Linked DNA regions of Homo sapiens. The protein of the gene in region 1 interacts with the protein of each later gene in a biochemical or structural test. Each region holds a gene or a part of one and is shown in the gene's direction. Other genes may lie near its edges.

The links.
Region 2: the proteins of FYN (region 1) and TUBA3C form a complex in vitro, tested with the Homo sapiens proteins (one study listed by BioGRID).
Region 3: the proteins of FYN (region 1) and HTR6 form a complex in vitro, tested with the Homo sapiens proteins (one study listed by IntAct).
Region 4: the proteins of FYN (region 1) and SOS1 form a complex in vitro, tested with the Homo sapiens proteins (one study listed by BioGRID).

Annotation. Positions count from the first base shown.
Region 1 is NC_000006.12:111,702,453-111,705,952, reverse strand, and holds part of FYN (tyrosine-protein kinase Fyn), read left to right. Parts: intron 1-1,850; coding exon 1,851-1,954; intron 1,955-2,918; coding exon 2,919-3,068; intron 3,069-3,500. UniProt on the Homo sapiens protein: Non-receptor tyrosine-protein kinase that plays a role in many biological processes including regulation of cell growth and survival, cell adhesion, integrin-mediated signaling, cytoskeletal remodeling, cell motility, immune response and axon guidance.
Region 2 is NC_000013.11:19,176,049-19,178,824, reverse strand, and holds part of TUBA3C (tubulin alpha-3C chain), read left to right. Parts: intron 1-430; coding exon 431-579; intron 580-1,217; coding exon 1,218-1,898; intron 1,899-2,776. UniProt on the Homo sapiens protein: Tubulin is the major constituent of microtubules, a cylinder consisting of laterally associated linear protofilaments composed of alpha- and beta-tubulin heterodimers.
Region 3 is NC_000001.11:19,667,875-19,671,374, forward strand, and holds part of HTR6 (5-hydroxytryptamine receptor 6), read left to right. Parts: intron 1-3,500. UniProt on the Homo sapiens protein: G-protein coupled receptor for 5-hydroxytryptamine (serotonin), a biogenic hormone that functions as a neurotransmitter, a hormone and a mitogen. Also has a high affinity for tricyclic psychotropic drugs.
Region 4 is NC_000002.12:38,988,552-38,992,051, reverse strand, and holds part of SOS1 (son of sevenless homolog 1), read left to right. Parts: intron 1-2,737; coding exon 2,738-2,782; intron 2,783-3,500.

The DNA of each region.
Region 1 (3,500 bases):
TACAGGGTCCACCGTGATGGCTCCCTCCTGTAATCCCAGCACTTGGGAGGCCAGGGCGAGAGGATCACTTGAGCCCAGGAGTTTGAGACCATGCTGGGCAACATAGGGAGACAGTCTCACTCTGTCCCCAGGCTAGAGTGCAGTGGCCCTGTCTCAGCTCACTGCAACCTCCACATCCCTGGTTCAAGCAATTCTCGTGCCCCAGCCTCCCGAATAGCTGAGATTACAGGCACATGCCACCATGCCCAGCTAATTTTTGTATTTTCAGTAGAGTTGGGATTTCACCATGTTGGCCAGGGTGGCCTCGAACTCCAGACCTCAGGTGATCTGCCTGCCTCAGCCTCCCAAAGTGCTGGAATTACAATCATGAGCCACCACTCTTAGCCTCTACAAAAAAAATTTTTTTAGTTAGCAGGTGTGGTGATGTGCACCTTTAGTCCCAGGAGGCTGAGGTAGGAAGATTGCTTGAGCCTGGAGAGGTCAAGGCTGCAGTGAGCTATGATTATGCCACTGCACTCCAGCCTGGGTGACAGAGTGAGACCCTGTCTCAAGAAAAAAAAAAAAAAAAGAAGAAGAAGATGATGAACACAGATCACAATCCAGGTGCTTGGTAAATAAATGCCTTTACTTATCCAAGTCCTCACACACCTAGGGGAGGAAAACAAAATACAAGTAAGTACTCATGGGCGTTTTTCTCAGAATTCTTATAGGGAGGAAGTTATTGAAAATACTATTCCTTTATTCATATCATATCTATCTAATCTGACTTTTTTTAATGCTTGATTATCTTCATATACATTAAGACTGTGTTTTGTTATTTCCCAGCAGTTACAATAATGCTTAGATATCAAGAGATTCAAGAGTTTTGTTTTTTTGTTTATTTTTTGTTATGAGACAGAGTCTCGCTCTGTTGCCCAGGCTGGAGTGCAGTGGCGCAATCCTGGCTCACTGCAACCTCCACCTTCCAGATTCAAGCAATTCTCCTGCCTCAGCCTCCTGAGTAGCTGGGATTACAGGTGCATGCCACCACACCCAGCTAATTTTTTGTATTTTTAGTGGAGATGGGGTTTCACCATGATAGCCAGCATTGTCTCCATCTCCTGACTTCATGATCCACCCACCTTGGCCTCCCAAAGTGCTAGGATTACAGGCATGAGCCACCATGCCTGGCGTTTGTTTTTTTTGTTTTGTTTTGTTTTGAGACACGGCTTTGCTCTGTCACCCAGGCTGGAATACTATGGCACAATCTCAGCTCACTGCAGCCTGGGCCTCCCAGGTTCAAGTGATTCTCCTGCCTCAGCCTCCCGAGTACCTGGGATTACAGGTGCCCACCACCACACCAAGCTAATTTTTGTATTTTTAGTAGAGCTGGGGTTTCACCATGTTGGCCAGGCTGATCTCAAACTCCTGACCTCAGGTGATCTGCCCACCTCGGCCTCCCAAAGTGCTGGGATTACAGGTATGAGCCACCATGCCCAGACTAGAGTCTTTTAGATAAGTGTGGAAAGGGTCTCCTGCAGTAACCATTTCAAATCAAGGTCTTAGATTTCTGGTTTTTTGCATACAGGTGGCAGTTTTAACACAAACCAGTTCTGGTCATGTCTAGAGGGGAGGAAAACAACCCACAACTCAAATCTGATTTTTTTTAAAGAGTGAAAGAGATGAATTAGGGATAGAATCCAGGATAGATTGAAAAGGAACTGAATTAAGCTAGAAAAAAAATACATCCAGGGAAAGGTTAAGGACTAAATTGGAGGAGAGGGGAATTCATGGGCAAAAAAAAAGCCTATGCTGTTGCATTTTGTAAATGACTATTTCAAAATATTTTCTTTCCTTGATCTAATTTAAAGGTGGTACTTTGGAAAACTTGGCCGAAAAGATGCTGAGCGACAGCTATTGTCCTTTGGAAACCCAAGAGGTACCTTTCTTATCCGCGAGAGTGAAACCACCAAAGGTAAGATAACGAGTTGAAGAAGTTGGCTTGTCATTCAAATCTGTGGATTAGTCAGAGGGGATGAAAGGCTTATCTCTAATGTACAAGGATTTTAAAATGGCACATACCCTCCCTGCCTTGTGAGTGGAGTCCTGTTTTCAGTCTTCCCTCCAGGCTCTAAAACTGCAGACAGCACCAAAAGAACTACAGAGGCCCCAAATCAAGACCTTCCTCCTGAAACGGGCTGGATGCAGCTACACTGCTCCAGGCACACAAGATCGTAGAATTTTCAGAAGTCCTTTAGAATTTTGATTTTCTGAAATCTTAGTTCCTCAGGTGCCAGTCATACAGGTTGTTTTTGCTTTCCTTTTGTTTTTTAAATAACTGAGGACTTCACTTCTCTTCCTCCAACTGTTGGACTTTTCATTATTTAACAACTCCTTACAACCCACAAGAGGAGACAGGTCAAGGAAGAAAAGAGTAGTGGCCTCTAGCTTAATTTGCCAGATTATCCATTCCTGTAAAAAGTGTTGTAAAGCAGAAGCTTGAAGCTCACTTCTAGAGAAACAAGCCTTAGATTTCTTTTGCACATGCTGCTGCTACCTCCCAGTATGCCCCTGGGTAGAGAAGACAAGGGAAGCAAGCTCAGCCATTCATCGTGGTCCTTCTTTACCCTTGGGGGAAAGGAGTGTTGGAATTGAGTCTACGCTGTATTATGCAACAAGGGGTACCGAACAGTGTGTTTAAGAAAAATGTCCAGGAAGCTTTCAGTCTCAAGGGCAGAATCATTTTATTGCTAATATATTCTGACATTTGCAGAACATCAAGAAGCATCTTCTTCCTGTTACTGAGTGGAGATGCTGTGTGTGTGTACATGTGTGTGTGCATCCTTGGTAATTATTAATCAGAGTCAAGAAAATGAGGCCTAAAAAGCAAGCTGATACTCTAAATGATTGGAGCTGCTAATGCTTTCCACGTTTACCAGGTGCCTATTCACTTTCTATCCGTGATTGGGATGATATGAAAGGAGACCATGTCAAACATTATAAAATTCGCAAACTTGACAATGGTGGATACTACATTACCACCCGGGCCCAGTTTGAAACACTTCAGCAGCTTGTACAACATTACTCAGGTAACCTTAATTCTAACTACCTACTAACCATTTGGATGCTGGAGGGAGTGGATAGGCCCAGAGCAGGAAAGTGGAAAGGGGTAAAACTAATATGTACAAAATCACTTATAGAGTATGTTTTCTTTGCCAGCCCTTAATGGTAGGGCTTGGCTGTATAGGTTCTATTGCTATTGTTCTACTGTTGTTATTATTAGTTCCACATGTTTGTCCGAAGATTCTATAATATTTTTGTTTCCCAAGTAGAAAGCAATAGGTTAAATTTTAAAAGTTGTTTGTTTTTTCATCTTCAAGTTGTCTTTTCCCATTCCCCGCGTTGCATGTGAGAAAGCAGTCTCTCGGAGGGCGCTTACATGGGGACTCCTACAAGGAATATTGTGTTTCCACTATCACTTTACCCTCAGCACTGTTGCAGGAATAGCTGCACGTACATTT
Region 2 (2,776 bases), on another chromosome or scaffold:
CACACAGGGTGCCCTGATGGGACTGCCCTGCAGAAGTCACACTGACCTGGTGACTTCTCAGTTTGTAAGCATTTTTAACTTACAGCCTTCGATGTAGCTACATGTAGGAAAGAATTATGTACCTGTAGAATTACCTGTGTGGGGGTGCTGGAGCTTATTTCCCTTCACTGGGAGCTGGTCGTGCTGACATTTATATTGTAAGCTGAGTTTCACTTCCTAGAGTCATAAATCACAGTTTGGTTATCACACATTTGCACTTTGGTTATCACACAGAGACATTTTCTACCAGACACTGCCACTGTTGACCTACAACATGTAGGTCATGTACTTTGAACAGCATGTACTTTGTAGAAGTGAACAGTCCTGGAATGTGTCCATCTTGGTGAGTATAGGCCTTAAAGATTCACAGTACATACGGTCTCTTTTGTAGATGAAGTGCGCACAGGAACCTATAGGCAGCTCTTCCACCCAGAGCAGCTGATCACCGGGAAGGAAGATGCGGCCAATAATTACGCCAGAGGCCATTACACCATCGGCAAGGAGATCGTCGACCTGGTCCTGGACCGGATCCGCAAACTGGTAAGAAGAGAAGGCTTCATGTGACCATTGTCCTGCACAGGAGGGTAGATCTTAGATTGTGAAGGGGAGGTCATTTTGTCAAAACCTAGACCAGTGCGTTGGCTGGGTCTGGTGGCTCACGCCTGTAATCCCAACACTTTGGGAGGCCAAGGTGGGCAGTCACCTGAAGTCAAGAGTTTGAGACCAGCCTGGCCAACGTGGTGAAACCCTGTCTTTACTAAAAATACACACATTAGTCAGGCGTGGTGGTGCCTGCCTGTAGTCCCAGCTACTCAGGAAGCTGAGGCAGGAGAATGGCTTGAGCCCGGGAGGCAGAGGTTGCACTGAGCGGAGTTCATGCCACTGCCCTCCGGCCTGGGCAACAGAGTGAGATTCTATCTAAAAAAAAAAAAAAAAAAACAACTTAGAACAGTATCTTGAGTCCTATTGCGTCTGCAATGGTCTTAGTCTGAAGTATGCATGGTGATTTGTCTGTAGATCTTTGTCTGCTTTTCTTTGCTTCAGAGTGTACTGCGTGTTTATTATGGATGATTGGAATCCATATCAAGTCTTCAGAGGCAGAGAAGTGGCCCTGGCTTGGTGGAGGTTGGTGGTGTGGCTTCCACGGGCATTGATTCATGTTGTCTGGTTTCCCTCAGGCGGATCTGTGCACGGGACTGCAGGGCTTCCTCATCTTCCACAGTTTTGGGGGTGGCACTGGCTCTGGGTTCGCATCTCTGCTCATGGAGCGGCTCTCAGTGGATTACGGCAAGAAGTCCAAGCTAGAATTTGCCATTTACCCAGCCCCCCAGGTCTCCACGGCCGTGGTGGAGCCCTACAACTCCATCCTGACCACCCACACGACCCTGGAACATTCTGACTGTGCCTTCATGGTCGACAATGAAGCCATCTATGACATATGTCGGCGCAACCTGGACATCGAGCGTCCCACGTACACCAACCTCAATCGCCTGATTGGGCAGATCGTGTCCTCCATCACGGCCTCCCTGCGATTTGACGGGGCCCTGAATGTGGACTTGACGGAATTCCAGACCAACCTAGTGCCGTACCCCCGCATCCACTTCCCCCTGGCCACCTACGCCCCGGTCATCTCAGCCGAGAAGGCCTACCACGAGCAGCTGTCCGTGGCTGAGATCACCAATGCCTGCTTCGAGCCAGCCAATCAGATGGTCAAGTGTGACCCTCGCCACGGCAAGTACATGGCCTGCTGCATGTTGTACAGGGGGGATGTGGTCCCGAAAGATGTCAACGCGGCCATCGCCACCATCAAGACCAAGCGCACCATCCAGTTTGTAGATTGGTGCCCAACTGGATTTAAGGTATGACTGGGTAATGTGGAGTCCTTGTACCTTTCAGCAAGCAACAGACACACAGAGTAATGCTGCCCCTGAAGGCCCACATCCTTTGAGGATACTACCCCTATTCCATGGGCTAGGCATGTGGGCATCAATTAGTGAACCAGAGTGATCATTAATTCAGTGATGTCTTTTTTTTTTTTTTTTTTTTTTTTTTTTTTTTTTGAGGCAGAGTCTAGCTTTGTCGCCCAGGCTGGAGTAAAGTGGTGTGATCTCAGCTCACTGCAATCTCCATCAGCCTCCCAAGTAGCTGGAATTACAGGCACCCACCACCACACCCAGTTAATTTTTATATTTTTAGTAGAAACAGGGTTATGCCATGTTGGCCAGGCTGGTCTTGAACTCCTGACCTCAGGTGAGCCACCCACCTTGGCCACCCAAAGTGCTGGGGTTAGAGGCGTGAGCCACTGTGCCTGGCCCAGTGATGTCTTTTGAACTCTTTCTAAGTCATTACACTATGTATCTGTGATGAGCTTTACTTACTTACTTTGTTGTTGAGAAGGCTGGAGTGCAGTGGTGTGATCTCGGTTCACTGCAACCTCTGCTTCCCAGGCTCAAGTGATTCTCTCACCTCAGCCTCCTGAGTAGCTGGGACCACAGACATGCACCACTACACCCAGCTAATTTTTGTGTATTTAGTAAAGGGATTTCACCATGTTGGCCAAGCTGGTCTCAAATTCCTGGTCTTAAGTGATCTGCTTGTCTTAGCCTCCCAAAATGTTGGGATTACGGGCATGAGCCACTGTGCTCAACCCTATTTATTTACTTTTTTGAGACAGAATCCCACCTGTCACCCAGGCTGGAGTGCAGTGTGGTGATCACAGCTCTCCACTAAAAATACA
Region 3 (3,500 bases), on another chromosome or scaffold:
TCCCAGCTGGGCTCTTTTGGTGTAGCCCTGAGTGGTGAAAGCTCTAGGAGGGTGGGGGTTGCATTGGAGGTCACTGGGCACATGGGGACTTGGCAGAGGGGTGAAAGGCTAACACCCTCCTTGGCAGTCCCCCAGACAAGCTTGCCTGTCCCACCCAGGTGGGTGAGGCCCAAAGTTGCCCCTGCCTATCACCTGGGGTGGGGGCAGGGCCCCACATGGACTGGGAGTCCTGGCTGCCGCCCAGCTCCTTCTCCCTATCCCTGCTCCCTGTAGAACATTCTTGAGTCTTGGCAGGTGGCTGGGACTCTGACTTGCTTCTTCAGGGGTGGGATGGCTGCCTTAGGCCATATACCCTGGGTTCTTGCTTTTTGTTGTTGTTATTGTTGTTTTTTAAGAGACAGGGTCTTGCTCTGTCACCCAGGCTGGAGGGCTGGAATGTAGTGGCGTGATTATAGCTCACTGCAGCTTAGAATTGATCATAGCTCATTCCAGCCTGAAGAGCTGGTATGCACTGGCCCGATCATAACTCACTGAACTCTTGGGCTCAAGCGATCCTCCTGTCTTGGCCTCCCAAAGTGCTAGGGTTACAGGCTTCCCTGGGTTCTTGAAAAGGAGTGTTTCACAAGCTTCAGGCATTCAAGAACTGCCTGCGGATATCTTCCTTAATGCCTCTTCCACCACCACCTCCACACCTTAAGCCACTTAATTCACATGCACTTGGCATTTTATTTATTTATTTATTAGACACAGGGTCTCACTATATTGCCCAGGCTGGCCTCGAGCTCCCACTTCAGCCTCCCGAGTAGCTGGAATTGCAGGTGCATGCCCCCGTGCCTGGCATTCTTGACATTTTCTTTAAATCATCTCTTTTATATTTTTACTTCCACAAATTTGTGTAGAAAGAAAACTTCGTATCTCCTCTAGAAATGGAAAATCTGTATCCTTTGCCATAAATAGAAGGTGATCACAAACACCACTTCAGTGAAACTGAAGAAGCTCCAGCCCTATCACTGAAATGCAGCTTGGTGTGGTTGAGGTGATGAGCCTAGGGCCTGCTTTCTCTTTGTAGCGTGCTAGAAGGTATTACAAACATGGTAGCATCAACGTGGGACTTTCTCTTGACGCACCTAGAAGAGCTGGAAGACAGCTGTAATGGGCTGACGTGCTCACTCTGTGATTCACTCATTTTATGGGGTGTCCCTTTACCATCTAAAATCATCTCCATTCCCACAGTTCAGGAAGCTCTGCTCTCGTGACTAAGGATGTGAGAAGTTGGCTGGTCTGGGTGAGGTTGGGGCGGGAGAGATCAGGATTCCTAGTTGCAGCGGTGCCAGTACCACACAGATTTTCTTTCCATGAATCTCGCTGGCTGGTACTAGGATTGAACCTGAGTCTGTGGTCTTGGAACCTGGGCAGGAGTCTCCCAGGTGCTAACAGCTGCAGCCCCACAATCTGTGAGCACTCACTCTGTACCAGGCACTGAGCTAAACTTATTAATTCCCCAAACACCCAATGAGTCAAGTACTACCAGCACCCCTGTTAGACAGGTGGGGAAACTGAGGCTCAGAGCGAGAGGTGACTTGCCCAAGATTGCACAGTTGGTAAGTGAGGTTTAAGCTCGGATCTGGCTGGTGCCATCGCCCTGTGCTGGTGTGCTGCCTGTGGGCAGTGATGCTCTTGAAATGCTTTGCTCGGGGACCCCACACCTTGCCCCTTTTCTTCTCTGTGCCTTCTGGTCTTCTCTGTTGGGTCCTCCTGATCCGCCTGAGCCATGGCATCCCTAGTCCTCAGTCCTCGGAGCATCTCGTCCTTTTTCCACATTTGCCCCGTTAGTGACCTCATCTTGTCTCGTAACTGAAAATACCACCCACACGCTGATGACTTCCTACCTGGGCTGCTTACAGGCACGTGCTGCCACGCCCAGCTAATTTTTGTATTTTTAGTAGAGACAGGGTTTCACCATGTTGGCCAGGCTGGTCTCGAACTCCTGACCTTACGTGATCTGCTAGCCTCGGCCTCCCAAAGTGCTGGGATTACAGGCGTGAGCCACTGCGCCTGGCCCTGACTTCCTGATTCCGCTCTTCCTCCCTTTCAACCTTCCGCAGTGGCCCCAATGATCCCCTTTACAATGCAGTTCCTGCTGCATCATTCCTCTGCTCTGGCAGCCTTGTGTCTCACATCACCTGGCCCTCTGACCCTATCTGGCCTCCTCTCCTTCTATAATCCTGCTTGTTTCTTCTCTTTCAGCCATACTGGCCTCCTTGCTGTTCCTTGAACACACCAAGCCCATTCTGCCTCACTTGCGGTTCCTTCTGCTTGGAGTGCCCTTTCTTCAGGTCTCCACCCTGTTCTCCCACTAATTTCCATCATTTCCTTCCAGCCTCTGTTGAATTGCCTCCCCTAATCCCTCTCTCAAGAGTAGCACCTCTCACCCTCCCCAGGTCCTCTCCAGTCCTCATTTCCTAAGTTATTTCTCTCAGCAGCACCTCCTACCCCCTGACGTGTTCTATACCTACCCATTTTTATTTATTTACTGTTTATTTCCTTCTTCTAGAATTTAGGCCTATGAGGGTGGGGAACTTGTTTTTCTGCCTTTTTTTTTTTTTTTGAGACAGAGTCTCACTTTCTCGCCCAGGCTGGAGTGCAGTGGCGTGATCTTGGCCCACTGCAACCTCCGCTTCCCAGGTTCAAGCAATTCTCCTGCCTCAGCCTCCGGAGTAGCTGGGCTATAGGTGCACATCGCCACACCGGGCTAATTTTTTGTATTTTAGTAGAGATGGGGTTTCACTGTGTTGCCCAGGCTGGTCTTGAAACCCTGAGCTCAGGCAATCCACCCGCCTTGGCTTTCCAAAGTGCTAGGATTACAGGCGTGAGCTACCATGCCTGGCCTGTCTTTCTGTTTTCCCCCATGGTCCCAGGAATTAGGGGCACCTGGCACATCATGGGTGCTCAGTATGTATTGATGGAAGGAATGCAGTGTACACAGTGCTTCAGGGAGCCTGGTATTCCAGCCCTGTTTGTGCGGTTGCCTGTTTTCTCATGCCTTTCAGAGTCACTTCTTGAGTGTCATGATCCTGAACTTTTTATCGTGTGAATTCATTTGCTTGGTGACATGTATTGACACCTGCTTTGCACAGCAGCTGTTCTAGGCTGTGTATGTAGTGGTGAACGAGACCAACAGTGCCTGCCCTCTTGAAATCTGTTCTAGTTAGGAGTACAGACATTAATCATCAAACTGTACCACGATGAGGATTATGGAGCTTATAGGAGGGATGCTTCACCCAGCAAACATTCAAAATCTATTATTCACTGTGTATGTTTGAAGATGAAAGCAAAGCACTCACACCAAGCCCTAAAGTGAAAGGCTGGAGGGGTCTTCATGGGTTGGTTAGGCCAGCGCCTTACTTCTAAGGCAGAGTGACTCAGGGGCCTCTCAAGCCAGAAATGTGTCTGTTCTAATCCCCCCGCTTTCTGGAAAGCCCATTCTCTTGGTTTGAACG
Region 4 (3,500 bases), on another chromosome or scaffold:
TGTCATCCCAACATATTCCACTCAAAGCAGTACAAAGTTCCATTGTTTAAGTTTTTCAAAAGGCAGAGTTTGACTAGAATTTTTTTTTATCAGTTATAATACTATACTATTCTTTTTTTACTCTTACGGTTTTTTCCCAAAATAATCTACTTTTAAAAACCTATAATTAATTATTTCAGCCAGTATCTGCTGCATATCTTATTCCTTGCTAAACACTTACACGTCTTCACTGGGAAAGCTTGCAGTCTTACTGAGAGATTAAAAATAATCATAGTGCAAAGAGATTCACAGTTAAACGCTAAAAATAGTGGTAAAGACATAAATACTGGAGAAGCTTATAGAAAGATGACCTCAGAATGAGCAAGAGTGGTCATGGAAAGCGTTGTGGCAAAGACAGGGCAGAGAAGTGGCCACGTACTTAGTGCTGCCACACATACATTCAAAGCCCTGCTCCACACCTTGCCCTGGCCAGGTCCACCTTTGAGGTGATGACGACAGTTGCTGAGAAAAGAGAAAAGACCACTGGCTCACTACTTGTTTCTGCTGCTATAATAGAGAGGAGAAAATGATGAAATGCTCTTTTTACCTTCCTGTTTGAAGATTGCCTGGTCATAAAAGGGAGTCAGAGGTCTGACTTCTCCATTTCCATCCCTTAGGGGACTCTTTAACAACAAAAAGAATGTATTACAAGTATGTCAAGCTGATAACGCAAGGCTTTTCCTCCTGGAAGATTGCTGTAGGTGATGAGTTTCTAATCCCAAATATATTTGCATTTACCAGGCTTTTGTGAGTTTAAGAAGTTATCTATCATATCTTTTTTTTTTTTTCTATAGAAAAATGCTTGTTTCTATCAAGAATGACTCCTTTATAAACTGGGGAGTATCTTTAAGAGTGGTTTCAACCCTGACTGTATAGTATCATCTGTTGAGGAGCTTAAAAAAAATATGTAGGCCCAGCCCACACTAGACTGGCATTGGTACCTGGTATCAGTATTTTTTAAAAACTTCCCATAGGATTCTAATGTACAGCCAAGATTGAGGACCATTTGTCTGTCATCTGGGATTATGCTTAATAAATTAATACTGTTTTTTAAATTAATTAGATTTCACTTCTAAGTCATTATCAGTAAATTTACTCAGTATCTAACTGACAAGAATTTCTAGCATATATTTCTTGATTAGTGCATGTAAAATTCTAAAAGAATTTCTATAGTATTTTCCAGGCAATAAGACAACTAGTGCCCCAAATTTACCAAATGCATGAGTCTAAGCCTGTGCTATATATAAATATACTCAAAGCCAAGTTTACATCTGTGTACACAAGTGTGCATGCATATGTACAATTAAAGACTATAGTTGTAACAGTCATGAGCTTGTGTTTTGATTTTACTCCTATTCCTGTATTGTATTAAGTGTACTATCATGTTCTTGAGGCATATCTCCAGGAGATATGTTTATTTCTTTTCCAGGAAAAGTGGGACATATATAAGTAGGGTAAACGCTAGAGCTAGATACTCCTTTAATCTCTATTACGTCAGATCTCTGGCTCCCTTTTACAACCAGGCAATCTTCAATTATAGGTGGCTAATAGGGAAGAAAATCATCGGCAGAGCAACAGCTTCATGTAATTTCAGAGTAGAAAAATGAATTTTAATCTTCTGAAAGGTAATATTAGAATTAGCTGGATTGCTACACTTAGGAATCATAGGTTCCAAATAAATATCAGTACATACGGAAATCAGATAATGGGACAGATTATTTGAAATTAGGGCTGCCTAGAAATCTGGAATGTGAGATCACCCTCCTTCTGACCAAATATGCTTGAATAAACTTAATATTCCAAATTATGTGAGGGATTGCCTATTGTGCAAAAAAAAAAAAACGAAATCTGAATTTAAAAAAAATTACCACAGTCTAGTATTATTTTAGTCTCTTGGATGTTATAACGTTATCTGTTCCATCTGTTGTTAATATGAGACACTGTACAAACAAACAACTATATTGATTTAGAATCAGTATAGATCACCTAGCTTTTTGTCTCAATTTTCCTACTTTAATGCTCTTGGGGCTTTCGCTTTTGATTTTCAGTTTTTTCCTTAAAATAATTAATATTGTTGAAATTAGACTTTCTAAATTTAAATTTATCAGAATTTCCTATGTAAAATGAGTCTAGGCACCAAATGTTTAATGACTTTAAAAAAAATGTTTATGACTATAAAAGGAAAAACCCTGTATCAATTTCAAGCTTGTTTTATATCCAAAGTGCTAGTTATTTTGTGATGAGAATATATGCCCCAAGAACATTTTTGAAAGACATATAATTAGTAACTTTTTTATTTTTCAACTTACATAAAATAAACTTATTACTTGTTTCACAAGTTTGAGTTTTCAAAATAATATTTACTAAATGGCATATTTATATACATCCAGCTGAACTTTTTGCTTGAATTGGGTTTCTACATTTTAAAAAGTCTTTCAGTAATATACGATTTTTTTATGAATGTTTTTCATTTAATAATTATGAAATCAAGTAAAGCTAAAAGGAATCTTAAATTCCCAATATGATATCATTTTTTTCTTCTCAAAAGTAAGTAGTAATGAGGTTTTACTATAAACTGTTACAGCATTCTTTAAAACGACAATGACAATAACATTTTCATCATAATACAAATTTTTGCAGATGAGTTGAATATATCAATGAAAGAAAAAAATCTACTTTTTCTTGTTTCCTTTCACAGGCAATGATACCGTCTTTATCCAAGTTACTCTGCCCCATGGCCCAAGTTAGTATATTTGGTTTAAGACTCATAATTCTTGCTTTGGCTTTAAAAATCAAACCAAGTGTAACCTTTCCTGCTAAAACTCTTCTTGGGTCTGGCAGCATTGGTACCTTGCTTGCAACATCCTAGAAGTGAGGCCTTCACTTGTGCTATCTTTAGATCATAAGTGATTTGCTTAAATTTATATATTTCTCATGCTTTTTATAAAACCTTGTTTCTCTCTTAAAAGAACATATTAAATAAGTGGCTTCCACATTTAACCATTTCTTTTTTCCAACTATAGAGTTCTAAGTATATTTTAATGCTCAACTTTGAAAAAAAAAAAAAGGCAAGAGCATGCATGCGCATATGGGAATGCTGGCAGCTACATGCAGTTTCTAAATCACAAAATATACTTAGCCTGATGGCAGGATAGATTATAGACAACTGCTTTTGACTTTAGAAGAACTTTCTTATAATTGTAATTATTCAAAGTATAGCCTAAATACTGATAAACAAAATAAAGTTCCATTTTAATTGTAAGGTAAACTAACAAGTCACTAAATTCCATTATTTTAATTATTTAAGCTAATATTTTTTTGCTGTCCTTTCATACAATTTCAAAATATGTACAATGGAAAATACTAGTTACAAGCTGAATTAACTATATTCTTAAGAAAAAAGGTAGGTGATCAAAATGTTGATCATTTAAATAATATCAGTACACAAAGTACTCTTTTTA